Linked DNA regions of Homo sapiens. The protein of the gene in region 7 purifies or fractionates together with the protein of the main gene of each other region. This does not show direct contact. Each region holds a gene or a part of one and is shown on either strand. Other genes may lie near its edges.

What was found.
Region 1: the proteins of FLNB (region 7) and GART fractionate together in Homo sapiens (co-fractionation; one large-scale study listed by BioGRID). This does not show direct contact.
Region 2: the proteins of FLNB (region 7) and PAK2 fractionate together in Homo sapiens (co-fractionation; one large-scale study listed by BioGRID). This does not show direct contact.
Region 3: the proteins of FLNB (region 7) and EIF4B fractionate together in Homo sapiens (co-fractionation; one large-scale study listed by BioGRID). This does not show direct contact.
Region 4: the proteins of FLNB (region 7) and IARS1 fractionate together in Homo sapiens (co-fractionation; one large-scale study listed by BioGRID). This does not show direct contact.
Region 5: the proteins of FLNB (region 7) and UBA1 fractionate together in Homo sapiens (co-fractionation; one large-scale study listed by BioGRID). This does not show direct contact.
Region 6: the proteins of FLNB (region 7) and UFD1 fractionate together in Homo sapiens (co-fractionation; one large-scale study listed by BioGRID). This does not show direct contact.

The regions. Positions count from the first base shown.
Region 1 is NC_000021.9:33,511,118-33,514,617, reverse strand, and holds part of GART (trifunctional purine biosynthetic protein adenosine-3), read left to right. Parts: intron 1-3,159; coding exon 3,160-3,366; intron 3,367-3,500. UniProt on the Homo sapiens protein: Trifunctional enzyme that catalyzes three distinct reactions as part of the 'de novo' inosine monophosphate biosynthetic pathway.
Region 2 is NC_000003.12:196,742,857-196,746,356, reverse strand, and holds part of PAK2 (serine/threonine-protein kinase PAK 2), read right to left. Parts: intron 1-3,500. UniProt on the Homo sapiens protein: Serine/threonine protein kinase that plays a role in a variety of different signaling pathways including cytoskeleton regulation, cell motility, cell cycle progression, apoptosis or proliferation.
Region 3 is NC_000012.12:53,030,456-53,033,955, reverse strand, and holds part of EIF4B (eukaryotic translation initiation factor 4B), read right to left. Parts: intron 151-3,500; coding exon 1-150. UniProt on the Homo sapiens protein: Required for the binding of mRNA to ribosomes. Functions in close association with EIF4-F and EIF4-A. Binds near the 5'-terminal cap of mRNA in presence of EIF-4F and ATP.
Region 4 is NC_000009.12:92,290,898-92,294,860, forward strand, and holds the start of IARS1 (isoleucine--tRNA ligase, cytoplasmic), read right to left. Parts: upstream 2,801-3,963; 5' UTR 2,714-2,800; exon of another isoform or gene 2,544-2,713; intron 1,697-2,543; exon of another isoform or gene 1,561-1,696; intron 26-1,560; exon of another isoform or gene 1-25. UniProt on the Homo sapiens protein: Catalyzes the specific attachment of an amino acid to its cognate tRNA in a 2 step reaction: the amino acid (AA) is first activated by ATP to form AA-AMP and then transferred to the acceptor end of the tRNA.
Region 5 is NC_000023.11:47,207,329-47,210,828, reverse strand, and holds part of UBA1 (ubiquitin-like modifier-activating enzyme 1), read right to left. Parts: intron 1,207-3,500; coding exon 1,142-1,206; intron 902-1,141; coding exon 706-901; intron 1-705. UniProt on the Homo sapiens protein: Catalyzes the first step in ubiquitin conjugation to mark cellular proteins for degradation through the ubiquitin-proteasome system.
Region 6 is NC_000022.11:19,462,194-19,465,693, forward strand, and holds part of UFD1 (ubiquitin recognition factor in ER-associated degradation protein 1), read right to left. Parts: intron 3,082-3,500; coding exon 3,009-3,081; intron 1-3,008. UniProt on the Homo sapiens protein: Essential component of the ubiquitin-dependent proteolytic pathway which degrades ubiquitin fusion proteins.
Region 7 is NC_000003.12:58,126,922-58,130,421, reverse strand, and holds part of FLNB (filamin-B), read right to left. Parts: intron 1-3,500. UniProt on the Homo sapiens protein: Connects cell membrane constituents to the actin cytoskeleton. May promote orthogonal branching of actin filaments and links actin filaments to membrane glycoproteins. Anchors various transmembrane proteins to the actin cytoskeleton.

The DNA.
Region 1 (3,500 bases), on a different chromosome or scaffold from region 7:
CTGCTGATGAATGGGGAAAGGAGGCAGGACTGATTTGTGCATTTGCCAGTTTTTGTGGTATAAATACTCCCATCATAGCTGCTTTAAAAATGGCTGTTTAACAGTCTCTACAAGCTGGCTCTAGCACACCACTAGTTAAAAACAACATAGTAGTCACCTCATTAAGAAACTGAAAGTGATATAGCCATATTCCTGAAAGCAGTTATAGTTTGAGTTACACAAATGTCTGTATTCCAATAAAAGCCATTGCACAATTCCTTGCATCAGCCTCTAAAGTTTCTTCCAGGAATCATACTTTGACAACAGATTTAAGTAAGGACTTCTGGGGGTTTTTTTGTTTGTTTTTTATTGAGACAGAGTATCACTCTGTCGCCCCAACTGGAGTTCCGTGGTGCGATCACAGCTCACTATTGCCCCAACGTCCTGGGTTCAAGTGATTCTCCGACCTCAGCCTCCTAAGTAGCTGGGACCACAGGTAACACGCCACCACACTTAGCTATTTTTTGTATTTTTAGTAGAGACGGGGTTTCACCACATTGCCCAGGCTGATCTTAAACTCCTTGGCTCAGAGCAATCTGCCCATCTCAGCCTCCCAAAGCGCTGGGATTACTGGCATGAGCTACCACACCTGGCCAGGACTTTTCAACATTAAAATTACAACTTACATTATTCATGAAGTACTTGTTCATTTATAGAAGCTAGACTCTTAGTCTGCCAGTGTTTTTTCCTATAAATATTTTGTAAAACTTCACTAAAACAAGATCATAATTTGGTAATCTGCTACTTGCCCTGCCATTAAATATGTCATCACTATCTCCTTGTCTTAGTAGCATCATTTTTGATAACAAGTATTCCATTTTACAGATGTACCACTATTTAGTTTTAAGTTGCTATTTACTTTTAACTATTGAGAGCATAGTGAACAATGTAGTTACTAAATCTGAGGTCAACTATTAAGAATGGACATTTCCCAGCTACTATAAATGGAATTGAATCTAAGAGTCATAGACATGTGATTCATTTTTATTTTTATTTATTTTTATTTTTTTAGACAGAGTCTCACCCTGTCGCCCAGGCTGGAGTACAGTAGTGCGATCTCAGCTCACTGCAACCTCCACCTCCCGGGTTCAAGTGATTCTCCTGCCTCAGCCTCCCGAGTAGCTGGGATTACAGATGTGCGTCTCCACGCCCAGCTAATTTTTGTATTTTCAGTAGAGATGGGGTTTCATCATGTTGGCCAGGCTGGTGTCGAACTCCTGACTTCGTGATCTGCGGGCCTCGGCCTCCTAAAGTGCTGAGATTACAGGCCTGAGCCACTGCACCCGCCTCATTTTTAAAATTGTATCAACTTCAGGCTGGGCATGGTGGCTCACCCCTGTAATTCCAGCACTTCGGGAGGCTGAGGTGGATGGATCCCCTGAGGTCAGGAGTTCAAGACCAGCCTGGCCAGCATGATGAAACCCTGTCTCTACTAAAAATACACACACACACACACACACACACACACACACAGAGACACACACACACACACACAAATAACCAAGTGTGGTAGCACATGCCTATAATCCCAGCTACTCGGGAGGCTGAGGCATGAGAATAGCTTGAACCCAGGAGGCGGAGGTTGCAGTGAGTCGAGATCACGCCATTGCACTCCAGCCTAAACGACAGAGAGATACTCTGTCTCAAAAAAAAAAAAATTGTATCAACTCCAAAGTATTAAAAAACTGATTATCAGCTGAGCATGATGGCTCATGCCTATAATCCCAGCGCTTTGGGAGGCTGAGGCAGAAGAAGCCCAGGAGGTCAAAACTAGACTGGGCAACATGGTAAGACCCTGTCTCTCCAAAAAAAAAATTTTTTAAATAGCCAGGCATGGTGTCGCATGCCTGTAGTCCCAGCTACTCAGGAGGATGAAGTGAGAAGATCACTTGAGCCTGGGACATCAAGGCTACAGTGAGCCGTGTTCATGCCACTGCACTCCAGCCTGGGCAACAGAGCCAGATCCTGTCTCAAAGAAAAAAAAAATTATCCAATAAATAAATCAAATAAATAGGCAGAACTGATAGTAAACCTTATTATTTAATAAAAAGCTGAGTTCACATTGGCTTCCCTTTCTTAAGAGCATCATAAATAATTTAATTCAGTATAGTTTTTTTAAAAAATCAGATCCCATAATCGTAGATTCCAAAGAACTATCCAGATTCTTTTTAAATTCAGAAATGTTGTGTGTGTGTATATAGACCTTTACCTAAAAATTTTTATTAGAGATTTTTGTTGTATTATTTGTGATAAGAGAGAATGTATTCTTTTTTTTTTTTTTTTTTTTTTCAATTTGAGTCGGAGTCTCACTCTGTCCACCAGGCTAGAGTGCAGTGGTACCATCTCGGCCCACTGCAACCTCCACCTCCCAGGTTTAAGTGATTCTCCTGCCTCAGCCTCCCGAGTAGCTGGGACTACAGGTGTGCGCCACCACGCCCAGCTAATTATTGTATTTTTAGTAGAGAATGGGTTTCACCATCTTGGCCAGGGTGGTCTCGATCTCCTGACCTCGTGATCCGCCCACCTCAGCCTCTCAAAGTGTTGGGATTACAGGCATGTAATCCAAAGTGTTGGGATTCTCACGCCCGGCCGAGAGAATGTATTCTTATAGCAGACCTAGGAAGTCTAAATTTTAAAAAGAATGAGAGGGAGAGGGTGTTGATCCGCCTTCCATTAACATAACTTTTCTTGAGGAGTGTATGCATTTTCTCTAAATATGTAGATAAGCCATCTAGTTTTGCATTGTACTTTGGGTGCATTTTGGTCATCACAAAGACTCAGCCAAACATTCACAAAAGGATGGTATACTGGCCTTTGCTGGAATTCAGCTACTAGCTCATCTGATCCATTAGGGAATGTCTAAGGGTCTAGTTAGTTAATGTAGCACAAAACCTCACTCATTTGTGAGTACTGGCCAAGTGTGTCAACAAAAAAATGTTCTTAATGTCTAAGGTACAAATGGATCCCCAAATAAAAAGTTCTCAGAGGCCAATTTATAGTTTTACCCTACATAAAATAGCAGAGCCTGATTATAATTTCCACATCTTTGAATATGTGCATACTTTTGTACTTTGTGTGAGAAGGTAGGAAAATCAAACAATTCGTGTCTATTTTTTTCAGATGCCCAGACCTGGAGGATCCCCAGGGTCTTCTCATGGTTGCAGCAGGAAGGACACCTCTCTGAGGAAGAGATGGCCAGAACATTTAACTGTGGGGTTGGCGCTGTCCTTGTGGTATCAAAGGAGCAGACAGAGCAGATTCTGAGGGATATCCAGCAGCACAAGGAAGAAGCCTGGGTGATTGGCAGTGTGGTTGCACGAGCTGAAGGTACTTGCTCCTTACTCATTTTTAGATATATAATTTTAGCTGTATAATTTTAGCTATACCTCAGCCTTGCCTCACAAGCTTTCTGCCCACCTTTTAGTGCAGCCATCGCTATGGCAACTATCTTTACACAGATG
Region 2 (3,500 bases), about 140 Mb from region 7:
CATATCATCATCTAAATGTTACAATAGCATCTCATAAAATTCAGAAGCCATTCCTATTTTTTGTAAAGCAGAAACAGAATAAAATAATAATCTTTCTCTAAATCCAACAGCTGCCATCATCCCTAACTGTAAAAATATTAATACCAGAGTCATTTCAAGACAACGACACGTCTCTTGTTTAACCAAGTCTTGGAACTTCAGGCCAATGTAATAAAGACCTAAAACAGGGTTAAGGGCTGGGCACGGTGGCTCATGCCTGTCCAACACTTTGGGAGGCTGAGGCAGGCGGATCACGAGGTCAGGAGATCGAGACCATCCTGGCTAATACGGTGAAACCCCGTCTTTAAAAAAGAAAGAAAAAGAAAAAAAAAAAAGGTTAAATATTGTAACCATAGAAAAGTGACTGAAGTTACTATTATTCTCAGATAAAACAATGAACCTGGAAAACAAAATAAAGACGTTTACTGAAGTCCAGTAAGATAATAAAAATACCAATGAACAGAAAAATCTAGTTACTACTTCTTCTTTTTTTTTTTTTACTTAGAGATGGAGTCTCGTTCTGTTGCCCAGGCTGGAGTGCAGTGGCTTGATCTCAGGTCATTGCAACCTCCGCCTCCCGGGCTCAGACAATTCTCCTGCCTCAGCCTCCGGAGTAGCTGGAACTACAGGTGTGCACCACCACACCCAGCTAATTTTTTGTGTTTTCAGTAGACACAAGGTTTCACCACGTTGGTTAGGCTGTTTCCAACTGCTGACATCAGGTGATCCACCCACCTAGGCCTCCCAAAGTGCTGGGATTACAGGCGTAAGCCACTGCACCCGGCCAAATATTTTTATACCTGTATTTTATTTCTGTAGCAAAACTATTTTAAAACTCTTTTATCCCCACCAGGCATGAAAAAATTCCAGAAAGATTAAGATTGAAACACAATGGGCTGGGCACGGTGGCTCACGCCTGTAATCCCAACACTTCGGGAAGCCAAGGCAGGCAGATCACCTGAGGTCAGGAGTTTGAGACCAGCCTGGCCAACATAGCAAAACCCCGTCTCTACAAAAAAAAAAAAAAAAAAAAAATCAGTTGGGTGCGATGGTATGGTGCCTGTAATCCCAGCTACTCGGGAGGCTGAGGCAGGGGAATCACTTGAACCCGGGAGGCGGAAGTTGCAGTGAGCTGAGATCCAACACTGCACTCCAGCCTGAGTGACAGAGTGAGACTCTGTCACAAAAAAAAAAAAAAGATTGAAACACAATAATTATTAAAAGTACCAGAAGAAAACACATAAGAATGTTTTTTGTAAAGGTGGAATGAGGAAGATCTTAAACAGAAGGCAATAGATTAATATCTATTACATGTGAAGAGCTTCTACAACTCAATAAGGAAATATACATTACAAGTCTTTTTGGAATGCAATTCAAAAAAAAAAGAAAAAAGAAATTTAAATGCACACTTACAAGTCGTTTTAATGGAAATACTTATCTACATATGCATGTGCACAAAGACATACGTATAAGTTCATTAAGGCTCTAGTTTTAGTTGCTCAAAGTTAGAAATAACATAAATGATCACAAATAATTAAAGTACTACCATACAGCATAATATCTAATGACTTAAAAAGTAGAGGTGCCACTATATGTCATGATATGGAAAACAATACTTAATGATCAGATTTTTTATTTTAAAATCAACATAAAAAGTATCCGACACACAAAAGGTACTACTTATTTCTAACTCAGTAAGTAAAACTATTAACAGCGGGTAGGTACTTCTAAGGAATGGGACTAAAAAGAGAAAGTAATTTTCACTTTTTAAGAATTTTATAAGACAGGGTCTTGCTCTGTCACCCAGGCTGGAATGCAATGGTGCAATCATAGCTCACTATACCTCCAACTCTTGAGCTCAGGTGATCCTCCTGCCTCAGTCTCCCAAAGAATTTTCACTCTTTAAATATTTAATTGACTTGTTTGAACCTTTTATAATAAATATGTACTGCTTTTAGAATTTAAATTTAAAATAAGGAACAAAACCACTGTTCCAGTTTGTTACAATGGTTCTGCCAGCTGAGACTAAGGTAATTTTGTCTTAAAAGTTTTTACCACTTTCCAAATTTCTTATTTAATATTTTTTTCTACTTTTATTTTTGTCTGATTTAAGAGATGGGGTCCCCCTGTATTGTCCTGGCTGACCTCAAATTCCTGGACTCAAAGGATCCTCAGCCTCCCAAGTAGCTAGGACTACAGGCACCACCAGCCACTGCCCACTTTTCAACTTTTATACAGGAAATATGCATATTTTTAAATCTGAGAAATTTGTGTTCAAAAACCCTATGTTTTATTTCAGTGGTGAAACTATTACATATTTTTTCTCCTGAAAAATTACATTTTATTCATCCAAAAGTAATTTTTATTTTTAGTTACGGTCTCAGAAACTTCGTTCTTTTAGAAGGCAGTTTTTTGTTTGTTTGTTTGTTTGTTTTTGAGACGGAGTCTCACTCTGTCACCCAGGCTGAAGTGCAGTGGCGCAATCTCAGCTCACTGCAGCCTCTGCCTCCTGGGTTCAAGCAGTTCTCCTGCCTCAGCCTCCTGAGTAGCTGGGATTACAGGCGCCCGCCACCACGCCCAGCTAATATTTTTATTTTTAGTAGAGAATACTAAATTCTCTACTAAAGAATAGTAGAGAATATAGGTTTCACCATGTTGGCCAGGCTGGTCTTGAACTCCTGACCTCAAGTGATCGGCCCACCTCAGCCTCCTAATGTGTTGTGATTACAGGTGTGAGCCACCGCACCCGGCCTAGAAGGCAGTTTTAATTCTAAGTTTAGGAGTATCGACTCTACAGCATGTAAGAACAGACTATTAACTAACGTTTATTAAGACCTATAATTACAGAATCCTTTACCTGCATTCCCTCATTTGATCTAAATATCCCTGTGAAATTGGTATTATTATTATTATCCCCATCTTACAGGTGAGAAAAGCAAGTCTTGAAAAGAATGTATATCTTGCCCAGGGTAAAGTAGAACAGCAAGAATTCAAACGCAGGACTCTAGCTCCTAACCACATGGGATACATGGAGTAAGTACTAAAGAAACTCAGAGATAGTAGGCTGGAACACTGAAATCCTGAATGAATGTTCAGACTGACTACCCTTAACCAGGCAGGTGACCCTAGAAGGGAAGAAGTGATGAAACTCAACTCTGATCACAGAAGAAAACAACCAGTATTTTATTTTTTGGGGGCAATGAGGGATTTTTTTCCTTTCCTATTCTGCTCTGTTAAGGCACAAAAAGGATACTAGGAAGAGCTTGGACACACAATTTGCAATTAACACCCTCCCTCTGATTAGTCTGGAAACTCAACTCTTATACCAAACTGATGGAAACCTTTACGACTTAAAGTCTTGAAGTTGACCCAGTTTCTTTTTCTTTTTCTTTTTTAATGAGACGGAGTCTCGCTCTGTAGCCCAGGCGGGAGTGCAGTGGCGCGATCTCGACTCACTGCAA
Region 3 (3,500 bases), on a different chromosome or scaffold from region 7:
CTACTTCTCTTTCTCTAGCAGCTGTGTCAACAGGCTTTGCCCCTCCAAAGATAGAAGCAGCTCGAGTGGACTGGGAGGTACTAGCAGAGGAATCATCTTCCTTAGGAGTACTCCGAGGCTTTAGATTCAGTTTGGGTCTTTGGGGGGGACCTAAGTTAAATGAAACTTTAAGTAATAGTTTTCCAATCACCAGAAGCTGATGGCTGAAAGCCAGATTTCTCAGATATAACTCCTATGAAATGCTACATGAGATTCAAGTTAGTGGCCTAACCAATCCACAGAAGGCAAATAGATCATTAGAAAACAGGTAGTTTAGGCTGGGCATGGTGGCTCACGCCTGTAATCCCAGCACTTTGGGAGGCCGAGGCGGGTGGATCACAAGGCCAAGAGATCGAGACTATCCTGGACAACATGGTGAAACCCCGTCTCTACTAAAAATACAAAAATTAGCTGGGCGTTGGGGCGCGCACCTGTAGTCCCAGCTACTCAGGAGGCTGAGGCAAGAGAATTGCTTGAACCTGGGAGGCAGAGGTTGCAGTGAGCCAAGATCGAGCTACTGCACTTCAGCCTGGTGACAGAGCAAGGCTCCGTCTCAAAAATAAAAAAAAGAAAAAAAAAAAAGAAAATAGGTAGCTCAGGCTGGGCGTGGTGGCTCACGTCTGTAATCCCGATACTTTGGGAGGCCGAGGCGGGTGGATCACCTGGGGTCGGGAGTTCGAGACCAACACAACCAACATGGAGAAACCCCGTCTCTAGTAAAAATAAAAAATTAGCCAGGCATGGTGGTGCATGCCTATAATCCCAGCTACTCGGGAGGCTGAGGCAGGAGAATCGCTTGAACCTGGGAGGCAGAGGTTGTGGTGAGCCAGGATCGCACCACTGCACTCCAGCCCTCCAGGCTGGAAAACAAAAGCAAAACTACGCCTAAAATAAATAAATAAAAATAAATAAAAATAAAAATAGGTGGCATAAATAACCAAGTTCTGGCCGGGCGCAATGGCTCACGCCTGTAATCCCAGCACTTTGGGGGGCTGAGGCGGGCGGATCACCTGAGATCAGGAGTTCGAGACCAGCCTGACCAATATGGAGAAACCCCATCTCTACTAAAAATACAAAATTAGCCAGGAGTGGTGGCACATGCCTGTAGTCCCAGCTACTCAGGAGACTGAGGCAGGAGAATCGCTTGAACCCACCGGGGAGGCGGAGGTTGCAGTGAGCTGAGAACACACCACTGCACTCCAAACTGGGCAACAAGTGCCAAACTCCATCTCAAAAAAAAAAAAAAACAAAAAAACCCAAGTTCAATTACTCTTCTACCACATCCATGATGTAGTACAAGACCACAGGAAAGACTAAAAATGGTAAACATTTAAGTAATAAATTAATAATCTATCAAGACTTCTTTTATATGGGAAGAAATTTTTGACCATCATTAAACTACTGGATGAAAGTATCTTGCTCCGAAATCTGCATGTTAAGAACTAATACAATATGATAGGGAAGATTCTAGTTCTTTATTTTTTTTGAGACAGTCTCGCTCTGTCACCCAGGCTGGAGGGCAGTGGTGTGATCTCAACTCACTGCAACCTCTGCCTCCCTGATTTTCCTGCCTCAGCTTCCTCAGTAGCTGGGAGTATAGGCACGTGGCACCATGCCCAACTAATTTTTGTATTTTTAGTAGAGATGGGGCTTCACCATGTTGGCCAGGCTGGTCTTGAACTCCCGACCTCAAGTGATCCGCTTGCCTTGGCTTCCCAAAGTGCTGTTACAGATGTGAGCCACCACGCCCAGCCAGGAAGACTCTAGATCTTATACCCTTGTCTCTGTGTATAATATAAATTTGGCAGGTGGTTCATGGGGCAAAGCATGTAACACTGAACAAATAAACTCTTAAGGCAGGCAGTCTGATTTCTTCCTCAATTCAAGTTGTCAGAACACTTTCAAGAGAAACCTAAGTGTTTCAAGGAAGTTAAATTTCTAAAAATGATTGTTTGTCCTAAATATTTTGGATATACAAAAGATACAGAGAATATAAAGAAAGCCTATGTATACAATCACCTGGCTTAAGTAATGTAACCTTAACAAAGAGGTAAAACCTCCTGATGACATGACCAGCTGTACTCTGTCCTCTAAATAACCACTAGATGGTGACTTCATCATGCCCACACTTGATTTTATACTTTTACTACATATGCACATAGTACCTGTAGATAGAGGGTACTGTTTAACAAGATCTAAATTTTCTACGAGGGCTTTAAGCCGACAGTTTATATATGTTCCTAAACATATTTTAAATCTGTGTTATAGCCCCGTCACTTTTGTAAGATAAAATAGGGGCTCAGAAAAAGTAGCTCATTTAAGATATTAATAAAAGAACGCAGCCGGGCACAGTGGCTCACGCCTGTAATCCCAGCACTTTGGTAGGCCGAGGGCAAGTGGATCACTTGAACTTGGAAGTTTAAAACCAGCCTGGGCAATGTGGAGAAACCCCATCTTTAGAAAAAATATCAAAATTAGCCAGGCATATGGCACGCACCTCTAGTCCCAGCTACTGGGGAGGATGAGGAAGGAGGATCACTTGAGCTCAGAAGGCTGAGGCTACAGTTAACCATGATTATGTCACAGCAATTCTAGCCTGGGCGACAGAGTGAGATCCTGTCTCAAGAAGAAAAAAGTAAAGGCTGGGCAAACAGTGAAGGCCCGTGTATGTCAGAGGTATAGAGAAAGGGCTATGTTCCAGGCCATGGGGAAACTAGACAGGTCTAAACAGGAGAATAAGGTAATTAGATCTTATGCCAGAAAGACAACTGACAACTGGGGCCAATGTGAAGAACGGAGCAAGAAAGGGAACTCTGTTAGGAGGCAATGGCCAGTAACGTGGGTGCAGCAATGAGGCCTCAACGAAGGTAGCAGCAGCAACTAGAGACAAGAGGGCAAATCTTAGAGGGAATGGGGGGGTAAGAGCAAGAAGAGAAATAAAAAATTAGGTATGCAGCTCTTGGTGGGGAGGTAAGGGACAGTGTGAGAGAGGAAAAGGTCAGAAGTCAAGGAGAACATGAGGCCCACATCTGAGCCTCCACTTTTCTAACTTGTAATTTTACCTATACCACACAGAAGTCTTAGAATTAAACAATACTTGTACAAGCCCTCAGCTCACTGATGGAACAGAGTAAATGGTTAATAAATGTTAGCTATTATTTTTAGGCTTCTTGCTTGAGGAAATCGCTTTTAAGAACGTAGTTTTTTCACTGGGCGCAGTGGCCCACGCCTGTAATCCCAGCACTTTGGGAGGCCGAGGCGGGCGAATCACAAGGTCAAGAGATCCAGACCATCCTGGCCAACATGGTGCAACCCCGTCTCTACTAAAAATACAAAAATTAGCCGGGCGTGGTGGCAAGCCCAGCTACTTGGGAAGCTGAGGCAGGAGAATCACTTGAACCTGGGAGGCAGAGGTTGCAGTGAGCCGAGATCGCGCCATTGCACTCTAGCCTGGGCAACTA
Region 4 (3,963 bases), on a different chromosome or scaffold from region 7:
TGGTAAAACTTAAAAAATCTTAAAGCTAAAAAGATGAGAATCTCACATTCAAATATAGATTCCAGTTTTCCATTTTACCCTTTTTATTGCTTATTCATGATTTTTATGAAGGATGAGCCCTATACCTTTCTGGTTTAGTCCCTAATGAGAGAAGTCTTAAAGTGTCTTTTTAAATGTTTTGCTAATAACCTCATGCAGAGATACTTGATCAATCTATGACTTAAGTATCTAGTGAGCCACCCTTGAGACCTTTCCTTCTCAAAGTCTATTTATATTTACTTAACAATTCTAACAAGGTGGGTGACGAGCTTTCCAAGTCAGTATCAGATCAGAAGGGGATAAAATTGCTAATAAGGGAACAACAGAGAAGATAAAAAATCTTAAGTACTCAAGAACCACAACAGACCAGGGTAATCAACTCTACAGGAAAAGACACCTACATACCTCAAACAGTTTTGAAAGCATCAAAAGCATCATAGTCTAATCAAGTTATTGATTCAAGTTATCATTTAAAAAAAAGTCTGTGACAAGTAGTATCTTTCATTTTCTTTTACCCTCATTAATTTTTCAGATGTGTGAGTGCCTCTGAGTTTAATTTAAGAAAAAACAGGACAAGAACAGTTGGGCTGTTTAACTAACTGAAATAGCTATTTCTGATCACAGTATGCCATTAAAAGGTATTAAACAGAAGGTTTAAGGCATTTTAGATCTTCAACTCTTATTATAACCTCTAGCCTTTCAAGGACCAAAATAAGTGTTTGTGCATTTACTGATTTATTTAGGTTCATTGTGTACCTTATCAGAGGCCAACTGAAACTTATGGGATTGTTATCTGAAGACTAACAGACCTTTAGATACCAACACATTCTAATCTCTTCAAGGCTGGTCCTACTATGGCCCACATCTATGGGAGCTTATTAGAGATGCAGACTTACCAGCCTCACCTCGCACCTACGAGTCAGAACCTGCATTTTAACAAGATCCCTAGGGGATGAGCATTCACATCAAAGTCTGAACATCACCACTCTTGCACTGTTCTAACAATTATTCAGGAATATCTATCTGAATTTTTATTTTTGAGAAAATAAGATTTAAGCTTTCTGAGAAGAGGATCATTCCTTTTTTTTTTTTTTTTTTGAGACAGTGGCTCACTCTGTCACCTAGGCTGGAGTGCAGTGGCACAATCATGGCTCACTGCAGCCTTGACCTCCCTGGGTTCAGGTGTTCCTCCCAGTTTAGCCCGCCAAGTAGCTAGGACTACAGGTGTGCACCACCACACTCAGCTTTTTTTTTTTTTTTTTTTGGTGGGGAGGGGGTGGTTTGTAGAGACAGGGTTTTGCCATGTTGCCCTGGCTGGTCTTCAACTCCTAGGCTAAAGCGATCCTCTTGCCCTGGGCTCCCAAAGGGCTGGGATTACAGGCATGAGCCACTATGCCTGGCCAGCTCATTCAGCTTTTACTGTGTTTTTTAGGGAGTCTCTACTTTCCCCAAAGATTAAGAATCACTGCATTATTACGTCAAGCATAAACACTCAGTATAACAGCATTGACTATTCAGGAAGAATCATGTACCAGCGACCGGGCTATGGCAGCTGCTGAGGAGAAGCAGCCTCCATGCATAAATCACAGGATTGCTATGGCCCATCGAATCCACTGGAGAGCTGTCCATGCACAACAGCATCCAGCAACCACAGGGCAGGGACAGAGCAGGTTAACCTTGCACAACAACCTTGTTGTGCAGAGGGATGCCATCCCCTTTGCTTCCCTCTTATTATAATCCAGGCCCTTGACTCTTCGCTGCTCCACAACTCCTTCAGGTCACCTTAACCTCAACTTCCCGTTCAGCAATTTCGAGACCACCCTCCCTGATATTAACTACATATTATTCACATTACTTCATATTATTTTGCCTCAATATATTTTAGAAACGCACACTAAAACCATGTTTTGTTTAAAATTTCATAATTCCTTCCAGAATTGCTTCCCTTTTAAACTACTGTATTAGTGGTTCCAATATTCTTCCCATTACTTAGGCATGACATTTTTGAGTCACCCCTGACACTACTCAGAAGATACACACAACCAATTAATCATCAAGTCATGTGGATCCTACCTATAAGCCTATTTCTGTTCCCCCTTTTCATTCTCCTCTAAATCCATTTCTGTTTCTCCTTTTATTCTCAGGTCTTCATAATCTATTAAGTCAAATGTAACCTGAAAGTGGGACCGTCTCAAACGTTTCCTCAATTTAGTTATATCCTATTAACATAGACTCCACAGGTATACTCATGCAAATGTACAAAATGTGTATACAATGACATTCACCGAATAATTGTTTCTCCAGGCAAATAACTGAAAACAATCTAAATATTCATGGTGACTGAAGTAAATTACGGTACATCAATAAAATAAGTATCTCGCAGCCATTGAAGGTAATAAATTAAGACATATAAAAATACGTATTGCCTATACATAAAGTCACAGCTATATCAATTTATACTATGTATATCATTTTAAAAAGATTTTACTCATTTCAAACACTACCTCATTCAAAAAGGCGACCATAAATTCCTGAGGCTGGAAACGAACGAACGGCAAGCCCCGAAGAAACACGCTCTTTTAAAAATTAAATCTTGTGCTACTGTTTCGGGGTTGTAACGCGTGCGTGACCCTCGTCTTTGAGGGCCGGATCCTGCAGGGAAGAGAGGGCGTACCTGAGGGGCCTCGCGTGCCTGGACAGCCCCGCGGGCCAGCAAGCCTAAAAGCAACTCATCCGGCGTCCACGCTGCAACCGGGCGCACGGAGGTGATGCAACGCGCTGAAAATGCGGGATCCAGTGAAGGAGACAGGCTCCGCACCGGCCAATCAGTGCGCGCTGCCTGACACCTGCCAACAAGCCAGGCGCCGATTGGTCGCGCCGGACATGATTGCGCCCACTGGCTCGGATGGTGCGACAGTGGTGCTTGCTGGTTTTGCGCCTCCACGTGGAAAACGAACCAGCGCTGAGGGCGGCGCTGTGCGTGCTGCTTGTATCCGTTGCAGTAGTGTAGACCGAGGTCTCACTCGGGTTGTGGGCACCTCCGGGTAGGTGACGGCCCACTGGGAAGGGGCGCCGAGGTCGGGGCTCATGTTCTTCATCTTGTTTGCTTTTGTCAGTATTTATCTGACTGGACACTTCGTACCTAAATTGATAACGACAAACAGCAACTTCCGGAGAGGTGGCTTTAATAATTATACTTTTGGGCCCTGAGCCGCCGACCCCAAAGCCGCTTCTCCTATCATAAATGGCTACGTGAAACGATAATAACAAAAGGGAAGGAAGGGTCTGACAACCAGATTTAAAAGTTTTATTGTATTTTACTTAAAATGTTTCCGGTAATGAAAACATTGCACAAACGATTTTTTTTTCTTTTTTTGAGAAGCGGTCTCATTCTGTCGCCCAGGCTGGAGTGCAGTGGCACGGTCATGGCTCACTGCAGCCTCAACCTCCCCGGATCAGATGATCCTCGCACCTCATCCCTGGCCAAGTAGCTGGGACTACAGGCTAGCGCCACCACGCCCGGCTAATTTTTGTATTTTCTGTAGCAACGGGGTCTTGCTATGTTGCCTAGGCTGCTGTCAAACTCGTGGGCTCAAGCGATCTGCTTGCCTTAGCCTCCTTAACTGTTGGGATTACAGGCATGAGCCACTGCACCCGGCCTGCATACTTATTATCATTGCTATGAGTCGGCTTGGTACCTTACTGATCTGCTGGTTAAAATCTGGAGCCTTGCAAAGGGCAGTAGGCCTCGGGCTTTGGCCCCAGAGCCTCTAAAGGAAATTCTGGATCTTGCCAAATTGGGAGTAGTTCCGTAGCTGCCTATTGTATCCGTTAGAGGGATATAAAAAATTTATCTGGCCTAGAATAGGTAGAATGCAGTTTCTTATTAAGTTTAGGAACATTTTGATAGTCTGTTCAGCATAT
Region 5 (3,500 bases), on a different chromosome or scaffold from region 7:
AGATTTTTGAGAACAGGACCTGAGAGTGAAGGCCTCTCTGACAATCTTCACGCTTCACCTAGGCCCCAGATGTGCCCCCAATTCACTATCTTGGGTTGGGCACTCGATGCGGACTGGAGCCAATCACAAAATACCTCAACTGTAGGGTCCCACAGGTTGAACCAGAGATCTGGCTGAGAGAACAATTACCAATCACTGGGTAGCCATTTTGTGCTAAACAGCCCATCATTTAACAAACTCTCATGGATTACCAGGCATTGTACTAACTTCATTTTAATAAATACCAGTTAATCCTCCCCAAACCCCCCATGAGATAGATCACTATTATTTCTACTTCACAGACGAGGAAACTGAGGTACAGAGAGAAGTTACGTGATTTGCCTAAGTTCAAGTAGAGTTTGGATTTGAACCCATATTGATTCCTGTGCTCTTAACTCCAGAATTTCTCCCCCATAATCCCTACAGCCCTGACTGGGAATCAGGTATGACGCAGCCCACACCACAGTCAAGGGCAATAGCAACCAAGCCTCTTTGCTCAAAGGAACTAGGGTGAGGAAAAAGCAGGTCAGGATCAATCACTCTTCTCAGATCCCCATGCCTCAGGGCACCTGCCACAGCTGGACTCCACAGTGGGAGGACCCACACTGCAGGCTCCCATTTCAGGGAAACACATTCTGCCAAATGGACCCAACAACTGGGCATTACCTGGTCAGGAGGGAAGTTGTGCAGCAGCTGCCGGATGTTGTTCGAGTACTGGGTGTGCCAGTGGTGGCAGGCCCAGGTCACGCAGTCAGCCCAGGTCTGTGGTCGCTGCAGCACCAGGCTGCGCTGCACAGCCTCCAGCACCTCCAAGGGCTGAGTGCCTGCCAGCCGCAGTGTTCGCTCCACAAACTTGGGGTCTCTATCAGGAATCGAAGAGGACAGAGGATAGGATTACATGTCAGCCTCAAGAGTGGGCTCCAGAGCAATCTTACTTTCTCCATGGAAAACTAGTCCCGACCCCAAACAACATGAGGCCCCAACAGCCACTCATTCATGTGAAAAGTGTGCCTGGTGCCAAGTGTTACTGTCATGAGGAAAGCAGCCGGGATGCCTTGGCTGGTGGACAGGGACAGGGCGAGAGGGCACTCGAGTTACTCACGTGAGGTACTGGTTGACATTTTCTGCTGGCTGCTTGAAGAGGCCTTCAAACTCATCCCGAGCCCACTGCAGACAGAGCAAACAGATTACATGTGGCCACAGTTGACAAAATGGGTTTCCGCAGGCATTATTAGAAGGACCATCAGTGAATAAAGCAAGTACAAGGCGCACAGCTACTCTGGAAGTGGGGAAGCCCTCTAGCCTTCCCCATTCCCCCACCTCAATTGAAAAACCAGGCCAGGCACAGTAGCTCACACCTGTAATCCCAGCACTTTGGGAGGCTAAGGCAGATGGATCACCTGAGGTCAAGGGTTCGAGACCAGCCTGACCAACATGGTGAAACCCCATCTCTACTAAAAATACAAAAAGTAGCTGGGCGTGGTGGCAGATGCCTGTAATCCCAGCTACTCAGGAGGCTGAGGCAGGAAATCTCTTGAACCCGGGAGGCGGAGGTTGCAGTGAGCCGAGATCATGCCATTGCACTCCAGCCTGGGTGACAGAGGAAGACTGTCTCAAAAAAAGAAAAATCAATGAAGTTGATTTGGGCAGTGGTTACAATAGTGCTGTGTATGTGGAAAACTGTTTTGTTTTGTTGTTTGAGACAAAGTCTCACACTGTCACCCGAGCTGGAGTGCAGCGATGCAATCACGGCTCACAGCAGCCTTGACCTCCCAGGTTGAAACGATCCTCCCACCTCAGCCTCCCGAATAGCTGGGACAGCAGGCACATGCCACCACACCCGGCTAATTTTTAAGATTTGTTGTAGAGACAGGGTCTTGCTATGTTGCCTAGGCTGGTCTTGAACTCCTGGGCTCAAACAAACCTCACTCCTTGGCCTCCTGAGTGCTGAGATTATAGGTGTCAGCCGCCATGCCCAGCCTAAAAATGTATTAAGATCTGAGTGCCAGGCGAGGTGGCTCACGCCTGTATTCCCAGCACTTTGGAAGGCTGAGGCAGGAGAATCGCTTGAACCTGGGAGGCGGAGGCTGCAGTGAGCCGAGACTGCGCCACTGCACTCCAACCTGGGCAACATGAGCAAAACTCCACCTCAAAAAAAAAAAAAAAAAAATCTGTGTACCTTATTCTAGATATGTTATGCCTCCATAAAAAATAAAAACTTCAATTAGGTATATCTTACCACAGTTTTTTAAAACACAAAAAACTCAGACCAAACCAACAATGATCCCTATCCAGGCCCTGAGGACTTGGCAGAAAACAAGACAGAGGCCGGACACAGAGGCTTACACATGTAATCCCAGCACTTTTGGAGGCTGAGGCAGGTGGATCACTTGAGCCCAGGAGTTTACAACCAGCCTGGTCAACGTAACGGGCACGCGTGCGTGCGCACACACACACACACACACGTACACACACTTACACGTACACACAGACACTTACACACACACACACACACACGTACAGACACTTCCCAGGAGTTGGAAGGTTGCAGTGAGCTATGATTGTGCCAATACACTTCAGCCTGAATGGCAGAATGAGACCTGTCTCAAAAAATAAAATAGCAAACAAGACAGAACTTCTGGCCTCTGAGAATTCCTAGGACAGTTCGCAGTCATTAGCGAGGTGGTTTGGAGTGTACAGATGTTAGAAATTCAGGTTCAGATTCCAGCTATGCCACGTATTACCTAGTTTTGTGACTTCAGGCACACAGGATAACATCTTTACCTCTGTGCCTTGTCTCTAAAACAGGTGTTACAACAGTGATACCTACCTTCATGGGGTTGCTAGGAAGAAATGAGCAAATACATATATATTTAAAGCTTGGTTAAAACAGTGCCAGGCACACAGTAAATGCCAAGTGGTTCACAATAGTCCTGTGAGGTAGATGCTGTCATTCCCATTTTACAGAACAGGAATCTGCGGCACAGAGAGGTTAAGTTCAAGGTTACACATGACCTAGCAAGACTGTGGTTGGTGCACAAATACAAACATACCCACTCTGGAACTGCAGTGTCAGAAGGGAGAAAGTGACAGATGGAACTGTTTTTTTTTTCCCTTCCCTATTTTGTTCCCACCCTCATACTCCTACTATTCTAAATGGTTTGGCCTCAAACACTGCACTAAGAATTATTCTGACAGCACAATGGTAATCCCTAGGTTCTGTTTCTTGGCCCAGGTGGTGGTCACCTGTGTGTTCACTTTGTAAAACTTCAGCTAGATCAAGCTTGTCTAACCTGTGGCCCATATGCAGCCCAGGATGACTTTGAATGCTGCCCAACACAAATTTGTAAATTTTCTTAAGACATTATGAGATTTATGCACGGATCTTTTTTTCTTTTATTTTTTCAGCTCATCAGCTATCGTTAGTATTAGTATATTTTATGTGTGGCCCGAGACAATTC
Region 6 (3,500 bases), on a different chromosome or scaffold from region 7:
TTTGCCATGTTGCCCAGTCTGGTCTCAAACTCCTGGACTTAAGTGATCCACCCACCTCAGCCTCCCAAATTGCTGGGATTACAGGTGTGAGCTACCACACCCAGCTTCAGCTATCTTTTTTATTAACTTTATTGAATTGTAAACAGAGAACACTTTAATTCTAAACAACTCTCTCAAGAGAGTAAGTCTAGGCCAGGCGCGGTGGCTCACATCTATAATCCCAGCACTTTGGGAGGCTGAGGCTGATGGCTCACCTGAGGTCAGGAGTTCGAGACCAGCCTGGCCAACATGGTGAAACCTCGTCTCTACTAAAAATACAAAAGTAGCCGCAAGTGGTGGCACATGCCTGTAGTCCCAGCTACTCAGGTGGCTGAGATGAGACAGGAGAATTGCTCGAACCCAGGAGGTGGTAGCTGCAGTGAGCCAAGATCGCGCCACTGCACTCCAGCCAGGGTGAGACAAAGAGAGACTCTCTCAAAAAAAAAGAGAGTAAGTCTAAAGACTTACTCTTTTCCAACATTTTAGATGTCATTTTTTAAGCTTCATACATTAAACATTATTACTGCTTTATATGGCAACATTTACCCTGGATTCATATTTGCCAATTTATTTATTCCCTATTCCTTCTTGCTTTCCTTCTAGGATAATGCTTATTCCTAAAGTACATGCTTTTAAAATTCCATTGGTAAATAACCTCTCTCAGATTTGGTTCATCTGAAAATATTTTCACTTTGCCCTTATTCTTTAAGGAAGGTTTTGATGATAGTTACTTGATACTGGCTGTAACTGTTGCTATTCAAAGACCTGCTACTTGCTGTTCTTCTGAAGGTACTGTGTTTTCTCCCTGCTTACCTCTCTGTATTTGGTATTTTCTACCTGTAGCTTATTCTGTTTGTTATACATTATAAATTTCCTGTCATGATGGGCTGACCACCAATTCTAAATCAATTTCAGTTACCATCTCTTCAGATTATTGCAATTCCTCCATTCTTTCCTACTGGGATTGCAATGGGCATGTTTGACTTTCTCAGTGTCTTCAACATCTCAAGCTCTCATATGTTCCATCCCCTTGCTCCTCTGTGTGAAATTCTGTTATTTCTTCAGATTCATCTTTCATTAACTCTTTTATAGCTGTTGTTTAACATTGTTTTTCAAATCTTTCTGGTTATTTTTGATAGCCTTTTGTTGCTCGCTATTATAATTCCATTTTAAAAAATATCTTTGAACATTTTATATCTAATTATTTTACATTTGTATCTAGAAATTCTAATGCTGATTTCCTTAGGGATCTAATTTTTATTGTCTCTGCTTTGGTGTAGTTTAATTATGTGTTCTTTGCTTGTTCAATTGACAGCAATCCCAAAGACGTAACTAAACTGGAGTGCTTTTTCCAGAGAGGATCTGTTTATTTCTCCTGAGACAATGACAACACCCACCTCTGTGTATATTTTACTGCTTTTAAGGGTTCCCGTTCAATCCTGATCTCTGACTCAGATCTCCCACTAGAGCACTGATATGGCCATCTGCCCTCAGGGCAACCCAGCTTAGAGTGTTTAAAATTCTCTATAAGCACAACAGTACATTAATCAGAAGGGCCCATTAGAGGATCTAGTTTTCCCTACTTCTAAAAGTGGAAGTTCAAACCTGTGTTTCAATTTTACATACACTCTTATATAATGTACCCTCCCTTAGAGTGCAAAGTATCAGTACTATCCTTTATCATCAGTTTAGGAGTTATATGTAGTATTACTACCTTAACATTAAAAACAATAACATTAAACTGCCTGTAATTAATTATAAAAGCTTAGAGTATTCAGTTAAGGTAAACGATACCTAAAATGTTCTCCACAAAGCTAAAGGGAACAAGATTATTTCTTAGTTTATTAAAAGGAAAAAAGAAAGTGTGATTCGAAACCCAAGGAACTGAAAAATAAGGTCAGATGCCTCAAATATGAGGAAACTGCCAGAGAATAAGCTGGATCCCTGCACTGACACCAAGGGAGTAACTGGCTAAACCACAGGCAGCTGTGACACAGCTGTGACGGCCCAGTCCCCGAAGGGACCAGAGAGTGCTGTGAAGGAGCTAAGTGCTAGCTTCAGGGAAAGCCCAGCCAAGCCAGGCTGTGGTCACTCCCGAACACTAAGGCTAGCCCTGGCAACAGCTCTGTGGGAGGGTCAATTGTCAACAGTCACAGTGAACAGGGGCACCCATATTACTGTGCTCCATGCCTGTGGTGGGACAGCCTGATGGCAGGATTGCCAACTATTACATCCTCCTGCAGGCATATTCCCATAGGTAATAGGAAAGTGAATGCTTTCTTGAATTTTGGACTAAGTCCTGTCATTTCACTTTACAGTTAAATTGTCTAGATCCAGACACCTAAACAGCATAAAATCAGGGATGAAAACAGAGGCATTCAGACCTGAGAGACTTGTGTCAGAAAGGTCAAGCCTAGAGAAGCTGCTAAGTGAAAACGGAAGCTGAAGAAAACAGGAGGTGGAGGAGGATGTGGGCTCCCAGGAGGAGAGGTGAGCCTAGGAGGTGTTGCCCTAAGGCAGAGCCAGGCTTTGCTTCTCAGATGCCACACAGCACTTGGCCCCACTGAAGGGCCTGTCAGCTTCTGTGGGGCAGGTATCCCAAGGACAAGGACCCAGCAGGGTTGTTATTGTGTCTCCACAGCCCTGCAAAGGGCTTAGCTCAGATTAGAGGTGCAGTGGGGACCTTTCAAACCAAGACAGAACCAGCAGCCTTGCCACCAAGGTACACAGAGGTATGACTAATAAGTCTATCAATGTTCCCCTGTAAATGCAATCTATCCTCAAAACAGAGTTACCAAATGAATTAGGGCTCTAAATATGAACCCGGGAAAACTTAATAACCAAACAGTAGGCAGTAATTAGGTGATAAGATCCAGGCATACGCTGCTTAAAAAGAAGCCCCATTCAAACATTAGAATGGACACTGCAGGTGGCTCTTGTCAGGAATGACCTGCATGAACTGGGCTCACCTTTTCATTATAGTTGATGGCAATCACATCCCCGGTGGTCAGACAGGCAAAGTTCCTAAGTGCGTTTTCTAATCTGCAGACACATTCTGTCAAGGCAACATGGCAAGATGGATACCTTAATCTGAAACAAGTTTCCATGTTAGATGATTACTGGTAGGTAGAGACTGTACCATGATGGTACTTGAAACACGAAGCTTTTAATACAATAAAGTACTACTTGGCAATAAAGAAGGATGGAACTCCTAATATGCAATAATATGGATGAAATGCCAAGCTGGGGTAACAAATGCCAAGCTGGGGGAAGGGGAAATAACCAACCACAAAAGGGCAGTGAGATTCCATCCACATGGAACCCTGAGAAAGACAGATCTATGAGGATGGGAGGTAGCTGAGAGGTTTCTGGGCCAGGGGATCAGGTGGGGACTGACAGGAAAGGACCTTTTGGGGACATGGAAATGTTCTGATTACATGGGTGTATACATTTTCAAACTG
Region 7 (3,500 bases):
TGGAGCACTCAGGAGGCAATTAACCTGGTCTGCGGGAGACCAGAGAAAGCTTTCCAGTAACATCTCAGTTGCGGCACAAGAGGGAGCAGACAGAGAGGTGCTTCAAGTAGAGAGGCCTCAGCACATGCAGGAGCCTAGAGGCGAGGGAGGAGACAGGCTGCTGGAGCAACTGAAGGAGGAAGCCAAGTGGTGGAACAACAGAACGGAGAGAGATGGGCAGGCCCTGCAGCCCACATCCAGCCCTGTCCCCCACACATGGCTCCTGTGTGTCCCCCAGACTCCTCTCCCTCCAATGCAGCTGGCACCTTCTGACCACACTCAGCCTTCTCGGTCACTCGGCCACCTGGTGAAGCCTTGCCGTCTTCCTGAGTGTAAGCTGAGCTCCTGCTACATGGCTGACCCCCCGGGGGACCCTGAGGGCCTCTGACTCCTTGAGGGTGTCAGTTTTAAAGATGAAGCACAGAGGAGTCGAGGAGAGGAGATAGTGATTTGCTAGAGAAGTGCTAAACAGAGAAACAAGGGCTAGGCCAAGGACACTCATGGACTCCACTGTGGAGGGGGACCTCCCCATCCAGCGAACGGCAGCATGCCTCAGGCTACCACGCCCATCACCAAGGGGCTACGTGCACCTCTGCCTCGCATGGGAGTCCTGGTGCTCCCCATGGTATCTGGCAAAGTTAATGACTGCCGTGAAAGCTGAGGGATCTCTGCTTTGCATCCCAGAGAATTTATACTTTGTAGAATTAGAGATGGTAGACAGCCAAGACACACAAAGAATTGAGTCCCTGGCTTTCTAACAACAGCTGGGTTTCAACGGCATCCAGGTCTTTAGCTACGTGAAATAAATGGCTGGCCCTGGCAAACAAGCACAGGCCTCCACACTGGGGTGAGAGGAACAAAAGGGGGCTTTACTTTAGAGAGTGACAGTTGAGGATTTCAATGTCAACAGCTGATGGCAAGGGACTACCTCTGAGGCCAATCTTTAAGTCAGAGCCTCCACTAGAAGTTGTCTGAGCTCAGCATGAGAGTAGCCAAAAACCAACAAACCCGGGTAAGATAAACTGTCCAAGATGGCAGACCCCAAGCATTATCCGCCACTCCCCTGTTCCATGCCCAGACACATGTCACCATTCCCTCATGCCAGATCTTCTTCCTCATGCACTCTGAACCCCAGTCAATCCAGTGGTCTAGGGAGCCGCCACCAACCAACCACAGCTGGCCTACCACAGGAAATCAACATGCCATTACGGGTAAGACAGGACACGTTGTTAAAAATAACTCCACTCCGGGTTTTTAACCAGGCCAGGAAAAACTAGGCTAATATTTAAGCACCCAGAATTACCATGAAAGCAAATTAGAAGGTGGCAGGTAGCCGACTGTTTCCCGGCAGTACCCCCATAGGTTGCCTTAGCTAAGAAGCCTGATGCTTAGAAAACCAACCAACACTTCACTAAATATCTCTGCCTGGGAAAGTTCTGGGGTTCTGGAAAAGCCGGCATTTGGCTCTCTGGGAGGCAACAGAGAGCCTGAAACATAAAAAGGCACCATCCACACCTGATGGGAAAACCACAAATGAGTGTCTTTCTGTTGTTATGCTCAAAGACGACCATTTGCTTTAAGCTCACAGGTCGGCCACAGGGGACAAACTCTGACCCCTTTCTGTAAGGGGGATTCGGAAGCTGGTGGCACTCACCAGCCTTTCCCCATAGTCAAAAAGTTTCATTGCCACAGGAGATGTTCATCTCCACTGTTGCCTGCCAGGTCGGAGCCACATCACCCCTCCTGGGAGCAGCCTTCTACCCGTTTCCTGTGCCCAACTCTCTCCTAACGCAAGTGTTACAAAACTCCAAAACAAGCCCGTAGCTCTGAATTCTGTCACCGAGCCCCATTCTCATTCTTCATAGCAGTCATCACAAGTTTTAGTTGTAAAAGCCCTAGACAGTAAGCTCCCTGAGGGCAGGAACTTTGTCTTGCCCACAGCTGAAGTCCCCTAGACTAGTGATTATAGGAATTTTTTAAATCTATATTGAATGAGCCGCAAGCACAAGTTTGAGGAGAAACATGTTGTTTTAAATGACTTGAGGCTTAAATGAGTATCTGAGTAGAATCAGTCTGAGTTGAATGTCAATACTTTCTGATCAGTGTGAGAGAGAGTGAGTGTGAGTGTGTGTGCACATTTCCATGTGGTAAGGGGGAAGCAGGAATGGAATCAGGAAAGCGTGTGGTCAGTGGACACTCCAGCTGCCTGAGAGTTAACCCAGAACCCAGCAGTGGGCCCCTCAACCTGCCCTTCCCCTCTCAGCGTGACCCAGAGAAAGAAGAACAAGACCCCGCTGAGGCTCTTTCTGCTCCTGGGGTCCTGGGGTGGGGCTTTGCCCTCTTCACACCACACCTAAGACAAGGCATAAGTGGCCCAGAACAGCCCCAGCCCTCGGTCTTCTGTCCACACCACACACTTGCCTGCCCTTTTAGAAATGGGGGCGGGGGAGGTGGTCTCAGAATTCACCACTATAGAATTCATCCATGTAACCACAAACGACTTGTACCCCAAAGCTATTGAAATAAATAAATAAAATGTGTGGGGGTGACAATCATTTGAGTAGATAACTAGAACCTATGGAGAGTCCTCCCCCCAAAACAAATGGAGGAGGGTCTTTCACTACTTAAGTCATATATTTATTTATTGTTTGAATCTTTACAGCAGTGGTTCAGGCTGAAGTGATTTTGTCCCTTAAGACATCTGGCAAGATATGGAGACATTTTTGGTTGCCACAAATAAGAATGGGGAAGGAGAAGTCTGCTATGGGCATCTAGCAGGTACAGGGCAGGGATGCTGACAAAAGTCTACAATGAACAGGACAGCCCCACACCACAAAGAATCATCTAGCCCAAAGTGTCATAGTGCCGGAGTTGAGAAACCGTGTTTCACAGTGATTACACATGACATCACTAAATACAAAAGAAAGAATTTGAATCTGCATATCTTGATCAGCTACTAGTATTGTCAGTGAAAAAAAAGAAACCAAGACACATGAATAAGGAGCCAAGCACAAAATAAGGTAGAAATTTTCTTTCTTTTTCTTTTTTTTTTTTTTTGAGACAGGGTCTTCCTCTGTCACCCAAGCTGGAGCGCAGTGGCGCAATCTCAGCTCACTCAACCTCCCAGGCTCCCATCTCAGACATCGTCCCATCACAGCCCCCACCCCACATAGCTAGGATTACAGGCACGCACCATCACACTCAGCTAAGTTTTGTATTTCTTGTAAAGATGGGGATTCCCCATGTTGCCTGGGCTGGTCTCAAACTCCTGACCTGAAGCAATCTGCATGCCTTGGCCTCCCAAAGTTTGGGGATTACAGGTGTGAGCCACTGTGATTTTCAACTTTGTAAAGAACCAGCTTTCCCCTGAATCAAGAACTAGGTCCTCCAACACACGCACAACTGTTTCCAGTCAAAATTCTAAGCCGATGCTTTTTGCCATGTTACCGGTTCTACTGGGA